2 linked regions of the Homo sapiens genome follow. The protein of the gene in region 1 purifies or fractionates together with the protein of each later gene. This does not show direct contact. Each region holds a gene or a part of one and is shown on either strand. Other genes may lie near its edges. The genes, in order: GNPAT and HEBP1.

Region 1 (3,818 bases):
CGGGCGTGGTGGCTCACACCTGTAATCCCAGCACTTTGGGAGGCTGAGGCGGGCGGATCACGAGGTCAGCAGTTCCAGACCAGCCTGACCAACATGGTGAAACTCCGTCTCTACTAAAAACACAAAAATTAGCCGGGCATGGTGGCGTGCACCTGTAATCCCAGCTACTCGGGAGGCTGAGGCAGGAAAATTGCTTGAACCTGGGAGGCAGAGATTGCAGTGAGCCAAGATTGCGCCACTGCACTCCAGCCTGGGTGATAGAGCGAGATTCCGTCTCAAAAAAAAAAAAAAATTGTACAGGCTACAGTTGGAAATGCGTTTTTTTTTAAAGACCAGATAATTATTTGAAGTCAAGTACCTACTGTTCTTTGATCAACCCAATACTGAATACCTCCTCTGTGCTGGGTACTACCAGGGATATGAAGATGAACAAGATGCCATCCCCATCCTGGACGTTCCCCTGGGTTGCAGAGGGCAGGGTGGGTGGGTAATGTGTAAACAAGTTGTGAGGGTTCAGTGAACAGAGACAAGGAGCAACATGCATGCTGCAGAGGGTTCCTGAGAGTGCTGCAGAGGAAAGGGACCATACTCAGGAAGACTTCACAGAAGCGACTTTTGAACCCTTCAGGAAGACCAGGAGAGGATCCTCGCCAAGGCAGGGATGAGGAATGCAAGATGGGAGGCTTGGGCCCCAGAGATTCATCAGTGATATTAAAGTGTTGGCCCAGATGGGGTGGTGGGTAGATGGAAAATAAAGATGGACCTCCCCGCCTCCTCCCCACCATCCACCATCAGAAGACTGGAGGTATAGAAACAAGTTAGGAGGCTGCTCTGTCCCAATGAGAAATGCAGGATGCCTGAGATGCCTGAGCCGCAGCAGTGGAGGCACTCAGGGCACAGCCAAGAGATGAGGAGGATTTACTGACAAAAATGCCAGTCACCAAGAGAGAGACAAATCAGACACCTGTTCTCAGTGCTGTGATGGGCTGGGTCTGGTAGGAGGCAAAGGATGTGTTAATTATGATACAAGTAGCAAGTGTTGGATGTCATGAGAAATAGCTAAAAGGGCTCAAACCCATCATTGTTTGGCCCAGGAACATATGAAAACATAGGTACTTGTTTTTCTAAAGTGTTTTGCTTTTTCAGGATGGGATAAATGCCATAACTAATCCATAACTAAGAGTATCTGTTCAGTGTCACTACAGTTCTGTTCCTTTTTTCTTTTTTTATGCAGATTACCCCACATTCCTAAGCATGTTCATATCTCAAGCTTTTTATGATCATTTCACATAAAATATTATTCAATTGAGCAAGCTGAGACAAGGCAAGTTGTTCAAGAATGAATGTGATCAAGTCCAGGAGGAAGCCATACCTCTCACTTGTCCCTGCCTTGAAGCAGTAGCAGAACTTGCCACCCAACTTGAGCAGTGTGCCACTGCCAGCCAGCTCTTTGGCTCAGGTTAACTGCAGAATAATTTTCCGTGCTGAGAATATTTGTTAAATATCACCATCTCTTCATTATGCTTCTGTAATTCTACCTGCCTGGCAGCTGTCTGCAGGCCAATATGTCAGGTGATAAGCTACCAACTGCCATGGAGCTGCCCCTTTAGTTATCTTTGATTTGGGGAAAACTGCAAAGTGATATTTTTACCATTTTAGTATGGGTCTAAGCAAGGGGTGTGTGTGCATGTGTGTGTGTGTTGTATGTTTTAATGTATTCATACACTAATCATGGGCCTTTTTCTTAGTATTCTTACATTCCCGTGCATGTGACTTTCCAGTTATGTAACTTGCTGTTAGAAAACTTTAGATTCCCTTGGTTCCTGAAGTACACAGAAGTGGTGTTCATTTTCAGAGTAGAAACTGATGTGCCTTTCAGAATGGCTGACAAATTTTGGGGGTAAGAAAGTATGTTACATGTCCTTAGAGAGAGAGAAAGAATTGATTTATGAAATAGTACTTTTAAATTTTTCTTCAGATTTGGTATCATTACCGTAATTGGTAGACAGTAAAACCTGTCACTTGAAAATGAGCATCTGTCACGTTACCATTAATAACGTTAACGTACGCTAGGCCTAAGACTCCCTGCAGTGACCCATCTTGTTTGAATGAATTGTCTTTGTGTGTAGATAATAAACCTGCTGAAGAAGTTGTCCCGGCCAGCATTCTTCTGCATTCCAACATTGCCAGCCTTGTCAAAGACCAGGTGATTCTGAAAGTGGACTCCGGAGACTCGGAAGTGGTCGATGGGCTTATGCTCCAGCACATCACTCTCCTCATGTGCTCAGCTTATAGGAACCAGCTGCTCAACATTTTTGTGCGCCCATCCTTAGTAGCAGTAGCATTGCAGATGACACCAGGGTTCAGGAAAGGTAATTTTCAGGAATGCAATCTTGACTTTTAGAAGAGGTCTGGCCATTCCATTCCATTTAGGGAGCCACATTTGAAGCCTTGTAATGTTCAGCCTCACGCCGGTGAAGAGCAGGCCTATCACTGAGAAAAAGTTAGCTTTGTTCCCCAAATACTTGTTCATCTGCTTCGAATTTTGGAATTGGGAGGACCTGGAAATAATCTAAACCTTTCCTTCTATAAATATGGAAAATGAGGCCTAGAAAGTTGCATAATTACTGAGAGAAGGATCTGGCATTTGAGTACAGTTCTCCACTTCCTGGTCTGCGGCACTGTTTTGGCTGTGCCAGCTCCCTGATCCAGCAAAGGCAGGTGGGCAGATGAGCAGTCAGCAGTCGATGAGTACTCCCGAGATGCATGGTCTTGTTCTAATTGTATCAGGAGTATAAAAATGAGTACAGTACACGTCATGTTCACAGGAGCCTGTAGTCAAGGCCAGGGGGTTCTGTCAAGGCCCTATGTTAGAATTACTAGGGGAGTGAGCCCCACCCCAAAGTTTCTTCAGTTGACCTGGGGTATGGGCCAGCCATTGGTGTTTGGTTTTGGTTTTGGTTTTGGCTTTTCAAAGCTCCACAGTGATTCTAAGGAAAAGTGCTACAGATATAATAAAGATACCAGGAAATATGAATATAGAGGGAAATTAAGAAATCAGTACCTTTCCTTCCCTACTAGGGAGCCATGGGGTAGGGAAAAATGAAGCGTCCTGGCCTCTAAGGACTGTGATGTCTCGCTGAGTAGAAGCCTGGTTGTAGGTTAGAGTCAATCATTTAAAAACTATGCTAGGGCCGGGCGCAGTGGCTCACGCCTGTAATCCCAGCACTTTGGTAGGCCGTGGTAGGAGGATCACGATGTCAGGAGTTCGAGTCCAGCCTGACCAACATGGTGAAACCCTGTCTCTATTAAAATACAAAAATTAGCTGGGCATGGCGGCGAGTGCCTGTAATCCCAGCTACTTGGGAGGCTGAGGCTGGAGAATCGCTTGACCCCAGGAGGCGGAGGTTGCAGTGAGCCAAGATTGCACCATTGCACTCCAGCCTGGGTGACAGAGCGAGACTCCATCTCAAAAAACAAAAAACAAACTATGCTAGACCGTAGTTTGCTCTGTGGGTAAGATTTGGGTTTAATTTAGCTTCCCTCAGGGGACTTAATTCTTGTCCCTGTTACATGAATAAAATATGCCTTTGAAATACATTTTGTGATAGTAAGGACTTCCTGGTACTCCCTTAAAGTTTAAAGGGCAATGTTGTAATTTTACATGATGCATTTATTTCCAGAGGATGTCTACAGTTGCTTTCGCTTCCTACGTGATGTTTTTGCAGATGAGTTCATCTTCCTTCCAGGAAACACACTAAAGGTAAAGTGCTTACAACAAAGAGCAAGTATGTTTGCAGTGTGAGTTCTAGAAATGT
Region 2 (3,818 bases), on another chromosome or scaffold:
CCACACACATCCTCATACATACTTTAAATCATCTCTACATTACTTATAATACTTAATACAATGTAAAAGCCAAGCAAATAGTTGCTACTCTCTGTGCACACACACACACACACACACACACACACACACAAACACACACACATGTATTTTATTTATTTATTTATTTTTGAGACAGTGTTTCACTCTGTCACCCAGGCTGGTGTGCAGTGGTATGATCATGGCTCACTAGCCTCGACCTCCTGAGCTCAAGCGATCCTCCTACTTAGGCTTCCTGAGTAAGTGGGACCGCAGGTGCATACCACCATGCCCTGCTAATTAAAAAAAAAAATTTTTTTTTTTTTTTGGTAGAGTCTCCCTATGTTGTACAGGCTGGTCTCAAACTCCTGGGCTCAAGCAATCCTCCTGTCTTGGCTTCCCAGTGTTGGCATTATAGGCATGAGCCACAATTGAAACTGCCTTTGCAAAAATTATAACTGAGGAAATTATGACAGTGAAAGAAATCAGACTTCATTGACTCTATCTTGTTTCTAACCCTTAAGCTGTCCTTGTGGGATTCCTGGGCTTAGGCCGAACTAATTGTAGGAAGGAATTCAGTTCGTGGCTTGACTCTGAAAGAAAATTGGTAACAGCCCTTTCCCAATAAGACCCCCTTCTTGCCTGGGGTCCAGTCTGACTTTGCAGGACTAACAAATTAGCTACAAGATTAGAAATTACAATTTAGAGGTCATGCAGCCTCTGGCTCCAAGAGTCTGAACCTCCTCAAATTGCTCCTGGGGATAACATCACTATTGTAAAACCTAAGATCAGTGCGTGAGATATTTTCCAGACCCTGTACTCGATGGATCAGCTGACACCACTCAGACCAGTAATCTGGCCCAACCAGTTCTGCCATTGCACCGAGGAACAGAAGACAGCAAGAAAAACCTAACTTGGCACCCCCCATGATTCCATCTCCAACCTGACCAATCAGCACTCCCCACTCCCCAAGCCACTACCTGCCAAATTATCTTTAAAAACTCTCATCCCTGAATGCTCAGGGAGACTGATTTGAGTAATAACAAACCTCTGGTCTCCCGCAGAGCTGGCTCTGCATGAATTACTCTTTCTCCATTACAATTCCCCTGTCTTGATAAATTGGTTCTATCTAGGCAGCAGGCAAGGTGAACCCACTGGGCAGTTACACCACGCCTGGCCTCTGCTGTTGATTTATGTATTTTTTATTGCTGTATTGCTATTATTATTTTTTGAATATTTTCCATCTGTGGTTGGTTGAATCGTGGATCCAGAACCCACAGACAGGAAGGGCTGACTGTAGCTCTGTTCACACCGTGCTCCCAGACACAGCATATCCTCTCCCTAACTCTTGTCTCACTAAATCACAGCCTCCCAATCTGCTTAATGCTCAGCTCCACTGTCTCTTTTCACACAAATCCTTCTTTCATCTCCCCATCACCACTTTCTGCATTGAGGCCCTGTCCTTGGACTATCCTTTCCCTGGTGTTTACTCATTATGGACCCCCACAGCTCTCCTTCAGTACATCTCCTGCTCCTTGCCACGTGATTGCTCATATAATTTAATTTTGTATTCCTGGACATACTGTAAGGCAGTGTTCTTCACATTTTGAAAAAAAATCACAATCCACAAGAAGGAAAGCATTTTTTACAGCCTGTCTTATCATGAATATACACATAGTTAAAGTTTCACAAAGTAATGCTTTACCCTTATGGATGAGATGCATCCTGGCTTTTTTTTTGTTCCTTCCCCTATCCTGTTTTCTTCTCTTCTACTCTACTGGAGTGAATTTTATTCCATCCCATTAGAAGAAGGAAAGTTGGTCTATGTTAATTTTACCATCTGGTAATGAAACATTATTATAGTTTTAACAATCTGCAATAAAGCCTTTATGGGCAGAAACTATACCACAGAGCTTTACATGTGAGAAGTGCAACAGATATTTATTTGATTAAGGTGCTGTGTCTCCTAACAATGATTATGAAAAACAGACACATGGTAGGGAACCTGGCTGCCCTAGACTGGTCAAATAGGTTTTCATATAATATCCTAGACTGAAGATTCACAACTAGGGAAGAGGGTGTGACTCCCAGGGGGACAGAAGGTGTCTCTGGAGGAAGGCAGGACTGTACGGCTGTGAGTGGCAAGTGTAGTCTCAATGAGCATATTTAATATTTATTTTATTTTTGAGACAGAGTCTTGCTCTGTCACCCGGGCTGGAGTGCAGTGGTGTGATCTCTGCTAAGAGCAACCTTCACCCCCCAGGTTCAAGTGATTCTTCTGCCTCAGCCTCACAAGTAGCTGAGACTACAGGCGAACGCCACCACTCCCAGCTAATTTTTGTGTTTTTAGTAGAGATGGGGTTTTGCCACATTGGACAGACTGGTCTCGAACTCCTGACCTCAGGTGTTCTGCCCACCTCGGCCTCCCAAAGTGCTGGGATTACAGGTATGAGCCACTGTGCCCGGCCTTAATATTGTAATTTTAACCCTGAGTGCCAAGTTTGTACTTAAATCCCCCTTCACATGGGGTAGAGGAAATTGCGCCAGACCAGGAATCATGAGGCAGCAAGTCAGCCTTGACTGTGGGGCACCGTGCTGAATCATTCTGAGGCTGCTGTGAAGCCCTCCATCTGGTGAATCTGACACTTCCAAAGAGCCTTCAGTAGCAAACTGTTAAGTAAACTTAGGGTGTTTTGCTCTTTCTGTTGCTGCAGAGAATTCCAGAACTCCCCTTTCATTTGAGAGCGCACCTACCCTTGGCACTTGTAATGTTTTAAATTCCAGAAACACTATCCTGTGAATCACAGAAGTTCAGAACCTAAAATGGTTTTAAAGTTTACCTAATCTAACTAATTTTATCAAGGAGAAAATGAAGAACCAGAGAGACTAAGTTGCTCAAAGTGATGTAACTACTGAATGGTGAAACTGAAACAAAAATTCCAGTTCCCAAACTCTAGTCTACTCCAGTCTAATACTCGTTGCAAGGTTCTCTAAAGCTATGGGGGGTGAAGTGAGCATTTAAACCTCTGTTTCTTTTCTTTATCCTCCTTTCTTTCCTCTCTCTGTCTTTCTTTTTTTCTTTCGTTTCCCCCTCCCTCCCTCCCTCCCTCCCTTCCTTCCTTCCTTCCTTCCTCTCTCTCTCTCTCTTTCTTTCTCTTTCTTACAGGGTCTCATGGTTGCTCAAGCTGGAGTGCAGTGGTACAATCTTGGCTCACTGTAACTTCAGCCTCCTGGGCTCACGTGATCCTCCCACCTCATCCTCCTAAGTAGCTGGGACTACAGGTGTGTGCCACCATGCCCAGCTAATTTTTTTTGTATTTTGTTTTCTCTGTCTTCTTTTGTAGAGACAGGGTTTCACCACGTTGCCCAAGCTGGTCTCAAACTTCTGAGCTCATGCGATCCACCTATGTCAGCCTTCCAAAGTGTCTTTGCTTTTTTTTTTTTTCTTTTCCTCTCTCTCTCTCTCTCTCTCTCTCTCTCTCTTTCAGATGGGGTCTTGCAATGTTGCCCAGTCTGTAACCTCTCTCTTTAGCCACTGTGTTAGATACTTTGGGCGGACAGTTGTATGCCCATATCAAATTCAGAATAGAGGTATCAGAAGTCATTTTACGCAGTTACTTCTTTTACAAATGGGAAGACCAAAAACAAGATCTCACTGGAGAAAGAGCTAACTGGCTCTTTCCTTTGGTCTTTTTCTTCTTTTATTCATTTAACCAACAACTACTGAGTATCTACCATGTGCTGAACATTGTTACAGGTGCTATAAGGGAAGATGCCAGGAAAACAGAATGTTATCATCTAAT

Evidence for each region.
Region 2: the proteins of GNPAT (region 1) and HEBP1 fractionate together in Homo sapiens (co-fractionation; one large-scale study listed by BioGRID). This does not show direct contact.

Annotation. Positions count from the first base shown.
Region 1 is NC_000001.11:231,268,629-231,272,446, forward strand, and holds part of GNPAT (dihydroxyacetone phosphate acyltransferase), read left to right. Parts: intron 1-2,129; coding exon 2,130-2,372; intron 2,373-3,683; coding exon 3,684-3,763; intron 3,764-3,818. UniProt on the Homo sapiens protein: Dihydroxyacetonephosphate acyltransferase catalyzing the first step in the biosynthesis of plasmalogens, a subset of phospholipids that differ from other glycerolipids by having an alkyl chain attached through a vinyl ether linkage at the sn-1 position of the glycerol backbone, and which unique physical properties have an impact on various aspects of cell signaling and membrane biology.
Region 2 is NC_000012.12:12,990,021-12,993,838, forward strand, and holds part of HEBP1 (heme-binding protein 1), read right to left. Parts: intron 1-3,818.